Regions from separate parts of the Homo sapiens genome. Here region 1 is linked to region 2. Evidence: fine-mapped expression QTL. A gene starts in region 2. The other region holds a variant in brackets. All regions are shown on one strand. Distances are from middle to middle.

Region 1 (5,381 bases), 23 kb after region 2:
GCCTTGGCCTCCCAAAGTGCTGGGATTACAGGCATGAGCCAGTGTGCCTGGCCAGATGATTTTTAATGGGATTGCTATGTGAAAGGGTAGTTCTGAATTATTTGAGAAATCTTCAGACTGTTCTCCACAGTGGCTGAACTAATTTAAATTCCCACCAACAGTGTATCTTAGCCTTGCCAGTATCTGTTGTTTGACTTAATGAACCTGGGTAACTTTATCCTTAAGATGCTGAACACATTGAAAGAAGTAGGCTGGGCATGGTGGCTCATGCCTGGAATATTGAGAGTATCCCTTGAGCCCAGGAGGTCAAGGCTGCAGTGAGCTATGATTGTGCCACTGCACTCCAGCCTGGGCAAATGAGGGAGACCCTATCTCTAAATAGGAATGGAAGAAAAGTAGGATATGATAGTGAAAACATGTTCACTCTCCCAGCAACTTCAGTAGAAAAAAAAAAGCAATAAAACCAGCAGCAGTTAGTGATCCTGTGGTAAGGGTTGTGTATCTCTTAGCGAATGAGTTTCTGGATTTTACCATTTGCAAGATTCTCACTTAAGAGATTTGGAGCTCTGCTATCTGGTTGTCACTGCAAACCTATGAGAAGTGCTGTTCTCTGGAAATCATTTTGGTAAAGATGAACAGTAGAAAAAAAGGAGAAAAAGCTTAGAACTATGCAGACTGGTGCTGGTTCTACCATAGTAGTCCGAGTTTAGCAAATAATACTATTAGTCGAGATCTGCTTAGGTGTTTCCCCTTAATTCCCTCATCTGCTTACTTTCTCGGTCTCTGTGCTAACTGCAGTGTCCTTAAGAACACTGTGAATCTCCCTCCCTGGCATTGCCAGCCTTCTCATATTGTGTTCTGTTTTCTGTCTCCTTTCACCCTCTCTGCCCACTTTAAGGTCATTTTGTGATCTGGCAATGCTACTTGTATTGATTTTGGTTTTGTTTTGTTTTTTTAACCACAAGCTATTACCTTTCTCTTTCAAAGTTTGAAAGGAAACATTTGCACTGGGAATTTTTTAATATTGGGAGACTGGGTCCCAAACTAAAGAGTCAGCCCTGTGATAGAACACGTGTGAAGACTTCCCATTCGGTAACATTATAGCGGAGGCATTGACAAGGTTCTTTTCATTGTGCTCTCTATTCCTAGAAGTGTGGAAGGCTGATGACCAGATGGAGAGAGACCACAGAAACCCAGACGAGCAGGCGAGGCAATTTTTAATTCTTAAGAACCAAACCCCAATTGAGGAAAGAGGCGATCTCTTTGGAAAAGCACTTAATCTGAACACAGACTTTGTTTCTTTAAGACAAGTACCTTATAAATATGACTTATATGAAAAAACTTTGAAATATAATTCAGACTTGCTTAATAGTAATAGAAGCTATGCAGGAAAGCAGACTGATGAGTGTAATGAATTTGGAAAAGCACTTCTCTACCTGAAGCAAGAGAAAACCCACAGTGGAGTAGAATATTCTGAATACAATAAAAGTGGAAAAGCCCTCAGCCATAAAGCAGCCATTTTTAAACATCAGAAAATAAAAAACTTGGTTCAACCTTTCATTTGTACTTACTGTGACAAGGCTTTCTCCTTTAAGTCACTCCTCATTAGTCATAAGAGAATACATACTGGAGAAAAGCCATATGAATGCAATGTATGTAAGAAAACCTTCTCCCATAAGGCCAACCTCATCAAACATCAGAGAATTCACACTGGGGAGAAACCTTTCGAGTGTCCGGAATGTGGAAAAGCTTTCACCCACCAGTCAAACCTCATTGTACACCAGAGAGCACATATGGAGAAGAAGCCCTATGAGTGCAGTGAATGTGGAAAGACATTTGCCCAAAAGTTTGAACTCACCACACACCAGAGAATTCATACAGGAGAGCGACCCTATGAGTGTAACGAATGTGCAAAAACCTTCTTTAAGAAGTCAAACCTTATCATACATCAGAAGATTCACACGGGGGAGAAACGCTATGAGTGCAGTGAATGTGGAAAATCCTTTATCCAGAACTCACAGCTCATCATACACATGAGAACTCATACAGGAGAGAAACCCTATGAATGTACTGAGTGCGGCAAAACTTTCAGCCAGAGGTCAACTCTTAGATTACACTTGCGAATCCACACAGGAGAGAAACCATATGAGTGTTCCGAATGTGGGAAGGCCTTTAGCAGGAAGTCCCGACTCAGTGTCCATCAGAGAGTTCACATCGGGGAGAAACCCTGAAACTCCAGCCAGGTCTTACTGTGGAAAACTCCTGCCAGAACTCTTCAAGCGGGTGAAAAACCTCATGACAGTATTGAGGGAACATGGGAATT[C/T]ATACTGAGATGCAATCTCTCAACTCAAAAATGTATTAAAAATAGGATCCCATGAGAACATTATACTGGAAGTTACATGTGATACCCAGCTAAAGAATACATATCAGAATATATCCAGTTGTAAATAGCCATACCCAGTTGTACTACAATGAGCTTTTTAAAATCTTGAATGAATTGAGTATTCTAGACAGCAGCATAAGAAATATACAAACAGTATCCTATGAATTTAGTGGTTTTATGTGGATATGCCACAAAACACAAGTGGTATGCTTTAGATCTGCACATGTGAATTTAGCATAATCACTGGGAATTTGAAATTCTTGTCCTCTGTGATAATTAGGACATAACAAGATTTTCCATACTAAACATCACATGTGTTTTTCAGTATCTCTGCAATCCAGTATGCATTCCAAATGAAATGTGTAACATTTAAAGTAGCATGGAACCTACGTCTTTCCCTACTGCTTGCTGGCATATATCAGTTGGTATGAACATTGTTCTTGAGCTGCCTCTTAGGAAACAGAAGACAGTGTTGAAGTTTTCCCTGCTTCTGGTTTGCTGAAGATTTTCTAGAAGCACTATTTACACAAATATGCAAATGTGAAATAACCGATCTATAACGTGAAGGAGGCAGACATGAGCTGTACTACTCAGTATGCACCACAGAATAAGAGTTTGCCGTGTAAAGACAATATCCCCATTCGTCATGCTCTTATTTTCCCGTGGGATATTTGCATACAAATGCATGTCTGTTACCAAAATATTGTGTAACACAGACAGAAACCACCTGTTTTTGTCTTTCCTTGTTTCCCTTAATATTTCATGAATTGTCTAGCAAAAATGGTAGGATGCTTCTGTAGTTCACAAATGTTACATTTCAGAGACTTTAGAGGAAAAATTATTTTAAATAACTGTCAACTGTTTCATTGCTTTTTAAATTTTTCACGTGCATAACCCCCTTTAGAAGTAAATTTTTACACTATTTTGTTGTTTAAAGGAGGCATTTCTACTTCCTTGAGTTTTGCTGTTGCCAACCTAAAACATTTCCCTTTGGAACATGAGTTATAAGTTATTACTTTTCCTTTACATGTTTACACTTTTATAAAAATCAGATTTTTCAGTGGTCTCTCCAGATATTAACAAGAATTGTTGTGTAACTCAAAGATTTGCTTTTATAGACTTGATTTCAAATTCTTAAGTTCAGCCTTTCCCTATCAATCACAAATCATGTATTGGAAATTATAAATGGCAACCAAAAACTGGCTTTTAAAAAATATTTTTGGATATCATTGATGTGCTGTCACACTATATATTGAGTGACTTTCTGAACAAATTTATCCAGAACATCCATAGCCCAATAAGCTTTTGTCTAAGTTGTCATCTTACTTACTCACAAAGGAGGGGAAAACGTTATTTTCATAGCTGCTTTTAGAAATGTAAATTGTAACAGCCTCCTTGGACAACATTGTGAGTCTGTTTTAACATTAATATACTCTTACAACCTAGGAATCTCCTGGGAATCTATCCCTAAGGAATAAAAAGCGCCAGCACTTAAGATTATATGTTTACTAATGTATATTGTATTTTTTGGTAAGGACCAAAAAAACAAACAAAAAAAAGACCATCAGTAAGGGAATGGATGAATAAATTGTGGTAAAAACATACCATGGCTGAATGGTATTTCCTTGAAAAGAATGTGTGGGAACAAACTCCAAACTTCTCTAGGTCAAATGAGGAAAGCAAGAGGGGAGAGAGAGAGTGTATGTGTGTGTGTAGCAGTTTTTATAAAATAAAGATAAACCCTTATATATGTGTGTCTTTGTATATGATTTTATGGGCCTGGTGAATAGAATTCCTTCCATTTTTAACCTGTGGACCTCACCAGCTTTATCAGTGAGGGCTTTAGCAGTAAACTGAATTAGCGCCTTATGAAAGGATGACTTGGAGAATGAGAGAAGGATTAAGGGAACAAACAACGGATGGTAAGGAATCCAGAGACCAGCAGTGCCAAGAAGCTGTTGTCTCCCTAGGGACCAAAGGAAGAAATGGTGTTTCAGAGCCCAGTGAGAGCCAAAATGTTGGAAGGTCTCTTTCCTGTAGGAGATAGAAAAATAAAAAGGAAGAGTGTCTCTTAAGTGGATGTTGAAGCTCTACAAAGATGCAGCTACTGTGAGAAACACAGAACTGTCAGGAAAGGGAGCAGAGGGGGAAAAGCCTCAGCTCTTTATTGCTGTCTCCTGAAGATGCCTCCATCAACTGAACCTAATCAGAAGCCCGGGTGATGCCGTCCTCCTGGGATAAAGCAGGGTAGAAAGATGGAGGATGGACCAGGAGGGGAAACAGCACAATCAGCAAATCTCCCATCTCAGTTTCAGCCTTGCTGGTCCGACTGTAATGAGGCTTTCCCAGAAGGACCCTTCTTCCCCTATGGTCATTCCAAGTGGCAACTGTTTGTCTCATGCCTCTTATGCGTTTAGAGGTAAGATGACTGACTCTGAAGCCCAATTTCAGAGGAAATAAAAATTTGGGAGTTGTCACAGGGATAATATTTTAAGCCATAAAGCTAGGTGAGATTACCTAGGAAAAAAAAGTATAAAGAATGTCAAGGACTGAGCCCCGAGCACTCACCCCAGTGTTTGCTGGGCAGGAACTGGCAAATGAAACTGAGAAGGAACCACCAGGGTTAGGGTGAAAACCAGTAGAGGGTGGTATCTGAAGCCAGCTGAAAACACTTATTTTGAAGTAGAAGAGTGGCCACTATATCAAATACTAATAATTTGTATGAAGTTGGATATATGCTGAGATTAACCATCAGTGAGGTCATTTTGAAAAAAACAGTTATAAAGGAGTGGTCAGGGTAAATCTAGGAGGATTCAAGATAAACTTGGAAACAGGAGCTGTGAATAAGGGGCCAAGTGTTAAGGACTGAAAAGTCTGAGATTTTGTCCTACTTGCAAGGTAACAAGTTAAGCTACCAGTTTCATGGATACTGGCAGAAGACATACTGTACTGACCTCGAATACACATTTGCTGGGTGGAGTTACAGGAGGGGAGGTCC
Region 2 (5,381 bases):
AACAGGAATTCTTATTCATTGTTGGTGGGTGCAAAATGATGCAGCCACTTTGGAAGACAGTGTTGGCAGTCTCTTACAAAACTAATGATATGGACAGGAGGCAGGAGGGCGGGATTCCTGGTGAGGGTTCTTACCCTCAAGCTTGGACCCATGGCCCTAAATGAGAACAGGCATTCCTGTTTTCACGCCTGTACGTTGCCTTTTCCAAGACCATTGTGGCCCACCCTGCTCTCTATCCTGTGCCCATAAGAACCCCAAATCCCAGGCTCCACAAACAGAAGAGCAGCAGAGGGGCAGAGGGGCAGAGCTGCAGAGCAAGGTGGTGGAGAAGGAGAAAAGAGAAGAAGCAATTGAGCATTGAAGAGGTAGCTGGATGGTCAGAGAGGAATTTGGCCAGGGACAGCAGAACTCCAGGGGACGATTATCTTCCCACGCCATCCCCTTTCCAGCTCCCCATCCTGCTGAGAGCCACCTCCCTCACTCAATAAAACCTCTGCATTTACCATTCTTCAAGTCCATGTGACCTGATCCTTTCTGGATGCTGGACAAGGACCTGGGTATTAAGAGGGCAGGGTGTAAAAGGCTGTCACCCTCACTCTCCACTGAGCTGGTTAACGCTTAGCTGTCCATGGATGGCAACTGCTAGAAGAGCATTAATTGTAACACACCCCTAGATGCTACCATGGGGCCAGAGCCCAAAGGTGCTCACCCTGGCCCTGGCACCCACTTGCCTCTGTGCTCCCCCTCCCATAAGGGGTTTTAGCACAGTGGCTGAGTAAGCTAGCCACGACAAGTCCCGCGAAGGGGTCCAGGGAACTCTCCTGTCTCATTAACATACTGTTACCACACAATCCAGCAACCATGCTAATTTTTTTTTTTTTTTTTGGAGACGGGGTCTCGCTCTGTCGCCCAGGCTGGAGTTCATTGGTGCAATCTCGGCTCACTGCAAGCTCCGCCTCCCAGGTTCACGCCATTCTCCTGGCTCAGCCTCCCAAGTAGCCGAGGCTACAGGTGCCCGCCACCACGCCCGGCTAATTTTTATTTTTGTATTTTTATTAGAGACAGGGTTTCGCTGTGTTAGCCAGGATGGTCTCGATCTCCTGACCTCGTGATCCGCCCGCCTCGGCCTCCCAAAGTGCTGGGATTACAGGCGTGAGCCACTGCACCCGGCCGCAACCATACGATTTACCCAAATGAACTGGAAACTTATATCCTCACAAAACCTGAACACAGATGTTTAGAGCAGCTTTATTCATAGTTGCCAAAACTTAGAAGCAACCAATGTATCTTCAGTAGGTGAATGGATTTAAAACACTGGTACATGCAGACAGTAGAATATTATGCAGCACTAAAACGAACTGAGGCTGGGCACAGTGGCTCATCCCTATAATCCCCGCACTTTGGGAGGCCAAGGCAGGAGGATTTCTTGATCCCAGGAGTTTGAGACGAGCCTGGGCAACATGGCAAAATGCCATCTCTACAAAAAATACAAAAAATTACCCAGGCATGGCTGTGTATGCCTGTAGTTTTAGCTACTTGGGAGGCTGAACTGGGAGGGTCACTTGAGCCCAGGAAGTGGAGGCTGCAGTGAGCCATGATCGCACCACTGCACTCCAACCTGGGTGACAGAGTGAGACCCTGTGTCAAAAAAAAAAAAAAAAAAAAAAAGCCAGGGTAACTTGAGGGAAACATGAGGGAAACTTAAATGTATATTACTAAATGAAAGAAGCCAATCTGAAAAAGCAACATATGTATGATTCCACCTATATGACAACCTGCAAAAGGCAAAACTATGGAGACAGTAAAAATATCAGAGATTTCCAGGGGTTGTGGGATGGATGAATAAATGGAGCACAGATGATTTTTTGGGGGGCAGTGAAACTATTCTGTACGATACTGTAATGGTTACAGGCATTTGTCAAGACCCATAGAATGTACAACATCAAGTGAACACTAATGTAAGCTATGGACTTTGGGTGCCAATGATTTTGTTTTTTAATTTATACTTTTTGAGACAGGGTCACCCAAGCTGGAGTGCAGTGGCACAATCTTGGCTCACTGAAACCTCAGCCTCCCAGGCTCAAGTGATCCTCCCACCTCAGCCTCCCGAGTAGCTGGGACTACAGGTGCGTGCCACCATGCCCGGCTAATTTTTGTATTTTTTTTTTTTTTTTAAGAGATGAGGTTTCACCATTTTGGCCAGGCTGGTTTCAAATTCCTCGGCTCAAGCAATCTGCTTGCCTCAGGCTCCCAAAGTGCTAGGATTACAGGTGTGAGCCACTGAGCCTGGCCAGGTGCTGATATTTAACTGTAGGTTCACCAATTGTAACAAATACACTGTTCTGGTGTGGGATATCAACTTTGGGGAGGTTGTGTGTGCTGGGGGGACATGGGTTATATGGGAATTCAATGTATTTTCTGCTCAAATTTTGCTGTGAACCTAAAACTGTTCTAAAGGATGAAAGGAACTGAGGGTGAAGGGAAATGGGAAGATGGTGGTCAAGGGGTACAAAGTCTCAGTTATGCAAGATGAGTAGTTCTGGGGAGATGCACAGCTATGTGACGATAGTTGACAATATTGTGTACTTGAAATTTGCTAAGAAGATAGATCTTAAGTGTTCTCATCAGACAAATAACTATGTGAGGTGATGCACATGTTAATTAGCTTGATTATGGTGAATATTTCACAAATGTAGATATCAAGTTGTACATCTTAAATATATAGATCTCAACAAATATATATACCTCAACAAAGTGGCCTGGGAAAAAAGGGAAAAAAGCTAGTTGCAGCACATGATACCTTTATGGCCAGTTTTGTAACAACAACAAAAAAATCAAAGTGCGAACTTAATGTTATACGCAGTTAATCTTTAGAAAGTGAGATTATGGATACTTTATTTTGTACATATATTCTAATTAAATACAGTTATAGATTATTTGTGTAATGTTTAAAAGCCAAGTTGTTGTATTTAAGGGGGAGGTGGTGAATTGTAGTTCACGACCCACTCTGGGAAAAAAGAAAACAGTGCAGGCTAAGGAGATTATTTTGGTCGGCTCATCAGACCGCCTAACAAGGCGAAGACTTTCCTGAGAGTCCCTAAAGCCGCGGCCCCGGAGGCTTGTGGGAAATGTAGTCCCGAACGTGGATGGTCCACCCCTCCGAGGACCCTGGGAACGGCCCGCGCCCCTGTTTCTGCGCATGTGCAGTGCTGCGAGCGCGCCGGTGGCCGCCCTTCCCCCACCACCAGCGGCGAGTGGGTGACAGAGCCCCCGTCTCCGCGCGTCTTCGCCGCCCTGCGCCGTGACCCGCTGTGGCACTGGGCCACGAGTGGAGGCTGCGCCCCTCCAGGTACGAGAGGGGCTTCCAGGTAGCTCCGCGCGGCCTGGGGCCGAGGGGAAGGAGATGAGGGATGGGCTCGTGCCCGCGCAGGGTGGGAGCCCAAACTTCGGCTACTCGTAGGCGGCAGTGACCCTCAGGGCGGCGTCCGGGGTTGCCCGGCGCTCGCCTCTGAACGGGGCCGGCGGGGCACGCCTGGCCGAACGTGCGGGGGCGGGGACGGCGGAGGGAAGGGCGGCTATGAGGCTTCGCCTTCTTCTCTTTGTCAGGAGATGCGCCTCAGACGGGCGGCGAAGGGCTCGGGCCGCGCGGGAGCGAGTTCTGGAGCCCCGGCGGGCGCGCGCGCGCGGGACGAGGCCCCGCCGGGGCGTGGTGGGGGCGTGGCCTGACACACCTGGCCACGCCCCGATGCCCGGTGCCTCGTGGGTGGAGGAAGGACTGGAGCCTGGTCAGTTGCCGGTGGTGAAGGAGAACCGTGATCCCTTTGTCAGAGGGTCTTCAGTGAGGTGTTCCCCTGATCCTCGCATCCACCCCGTGACTTCCAGCGTTATCATCTCCGTCGCTATCCCAGGAACACGGGAGGTTCAGAAGGGGAAAGTGATTTCCCTAAGGTCTCACAACCCGGTGGTACTTTATGTGAGCAGCAGATATTTTTTCATTTATCTTTTGATTTTACTCGCTGGTAGATTTTGCCATGTATACGTTTTGACGTTTTAAATTTCTCTCGGGTGGAATTTACTGTTCTTTCCGTTTGGGGCACCCAAAATTCTTCACTACTTTGAAATACGAAAGTTTTCCCATGATTCTGGTGCAGTCACGCTCTGCGTAACAGTGTTTCTGTCAACGAGGGACCTCATGTAAAATGGTGGTCCTATGTGATTGTAATACTATATTTTTGTATTGTACCGTTTCTTTTCTTTACTTTCTTTTTTTTTTTTTTTTTTTTGAGACGGAGTCTCGCTCTGTCGTCCAGGCTGGAGTGCAGTGGCTTGATCTCGGCTCACTGCAACCTCCGCCTCCTGGGTTAAAGTAGTGCTCTGCCTCAGCCTCCCGAGTAGCTGGGATTACAGGCGTGAGCCACCGCGTCCGGCCAGACACAATTTATTGATGTAACTGTTCCTCTAAATACTACTTTAACTACATCACTCAAATTTTTATATCTTGTATTTTCTTTTCTGTTGTTGTTGTTTTTGAGACTGAGTCTCACTCTGTCACCCAGGCTGGAGTGCAGTGGCACTCAGCTCACTGAAACCTCTGCCTCCCGGGTTCAAGCAGTCCTCCTGGCTGGGATTACAGGCACCCGCCACTACACCTGGCTGATTTTTGTATTTTTAGTAGAGACGGGGTTTCACCATGTTGGCCCGGCTGCTCTAGAACTCTTGACCTCAAGTGATTCTCCCGCCTTGGCTTCCCAAAGTGCTGGGATTACAGGCATGAACCACTGCACCCAGCCTTTTTATTGTGTTTTCATTACCATTCAATTCAAATTTTTTTAACTTCCCTTGTGACTTCATTTTTTACCCTTATTTATTTAGATTGTATTGCATAATTTCCAAGTTTTTGGAGATTTTCCAGATCTTTTTTTTTTTTTTTTTGAGACAGAGTCTCGCTCTGTTGCCCAGTCTGGAGTGCAGTAGCGAGATCTCGGCTCACTGCAAGCTCCGCCTACCAGGTTCACACCATTCTCCTGCCTCAGCCTCCAGAGTAGCTGGGACTACAGGCGCCCGCCACTACACCTGGCTAATTTTTTTATTTTTTTTTGTATTTTTAGTAGAGACGGGGTTTCACCGTGTTAGCCAGGATGGTCTCTATCTCCTGACCTGGTGATCCACCTGCCTCGGCCTTGCAAAGTGCTGGGATCACAGGCGTGAGCCATCGCACCCGGCCCAGATCTTTTTATATTATTGATTTATAGTTTAATTCTGATTTGGTCAGAATACTGTGTTACGAATTTCAATTATTTTAAATTTGTTGTGGTTTGTTTTTGTATTGTATTTTTGTTTCATTTTGTTTTAGTAGACTCCTGGTCTCAAGTGATCCGCTG

The links. PIP is the estimated chance that this variant, and not a neighbour inherited with it, causes the effect. A credible set is the group of variants that fine-mapping cannot tell apart.
Region 1: its variant is the best candidate, but not a certain one, in a credible set for the expression of ZFP1 in prefrontal cortex (GTEx, PIP 0.52).

Annotation. Positions count from the first base shown.
Region 1 is chr16:75,168,104-75,173,484 of GRCh38, forward strand. ZFP1 (ZFP1 zinc finger protein) reads left to right here. Exons shown (of 4, transcript NM_153688.4): 4 at 1,150-4,131. The coding sequence ends at 2,231. Among named protein-coding and RNA genes, the nearest start is that of ZFP1, 22 kb to the left of the region's middle. The variant C/T (reference allele first, on the strand shown) is at 2,324.
Region 2 is chr16:75,145,295-75,150,675 of GRCh38, forward strand. It overlaps ZFP1 (ZFP1 zinc finger protein), which reads left to right and starts at 3,230. Exons shown (of 4, transcript NM_153688.4): 1 at 3,230-3,349. RefSeq lists an enhancer at 3,041-3,090 and a silencer at 3,451-3,820.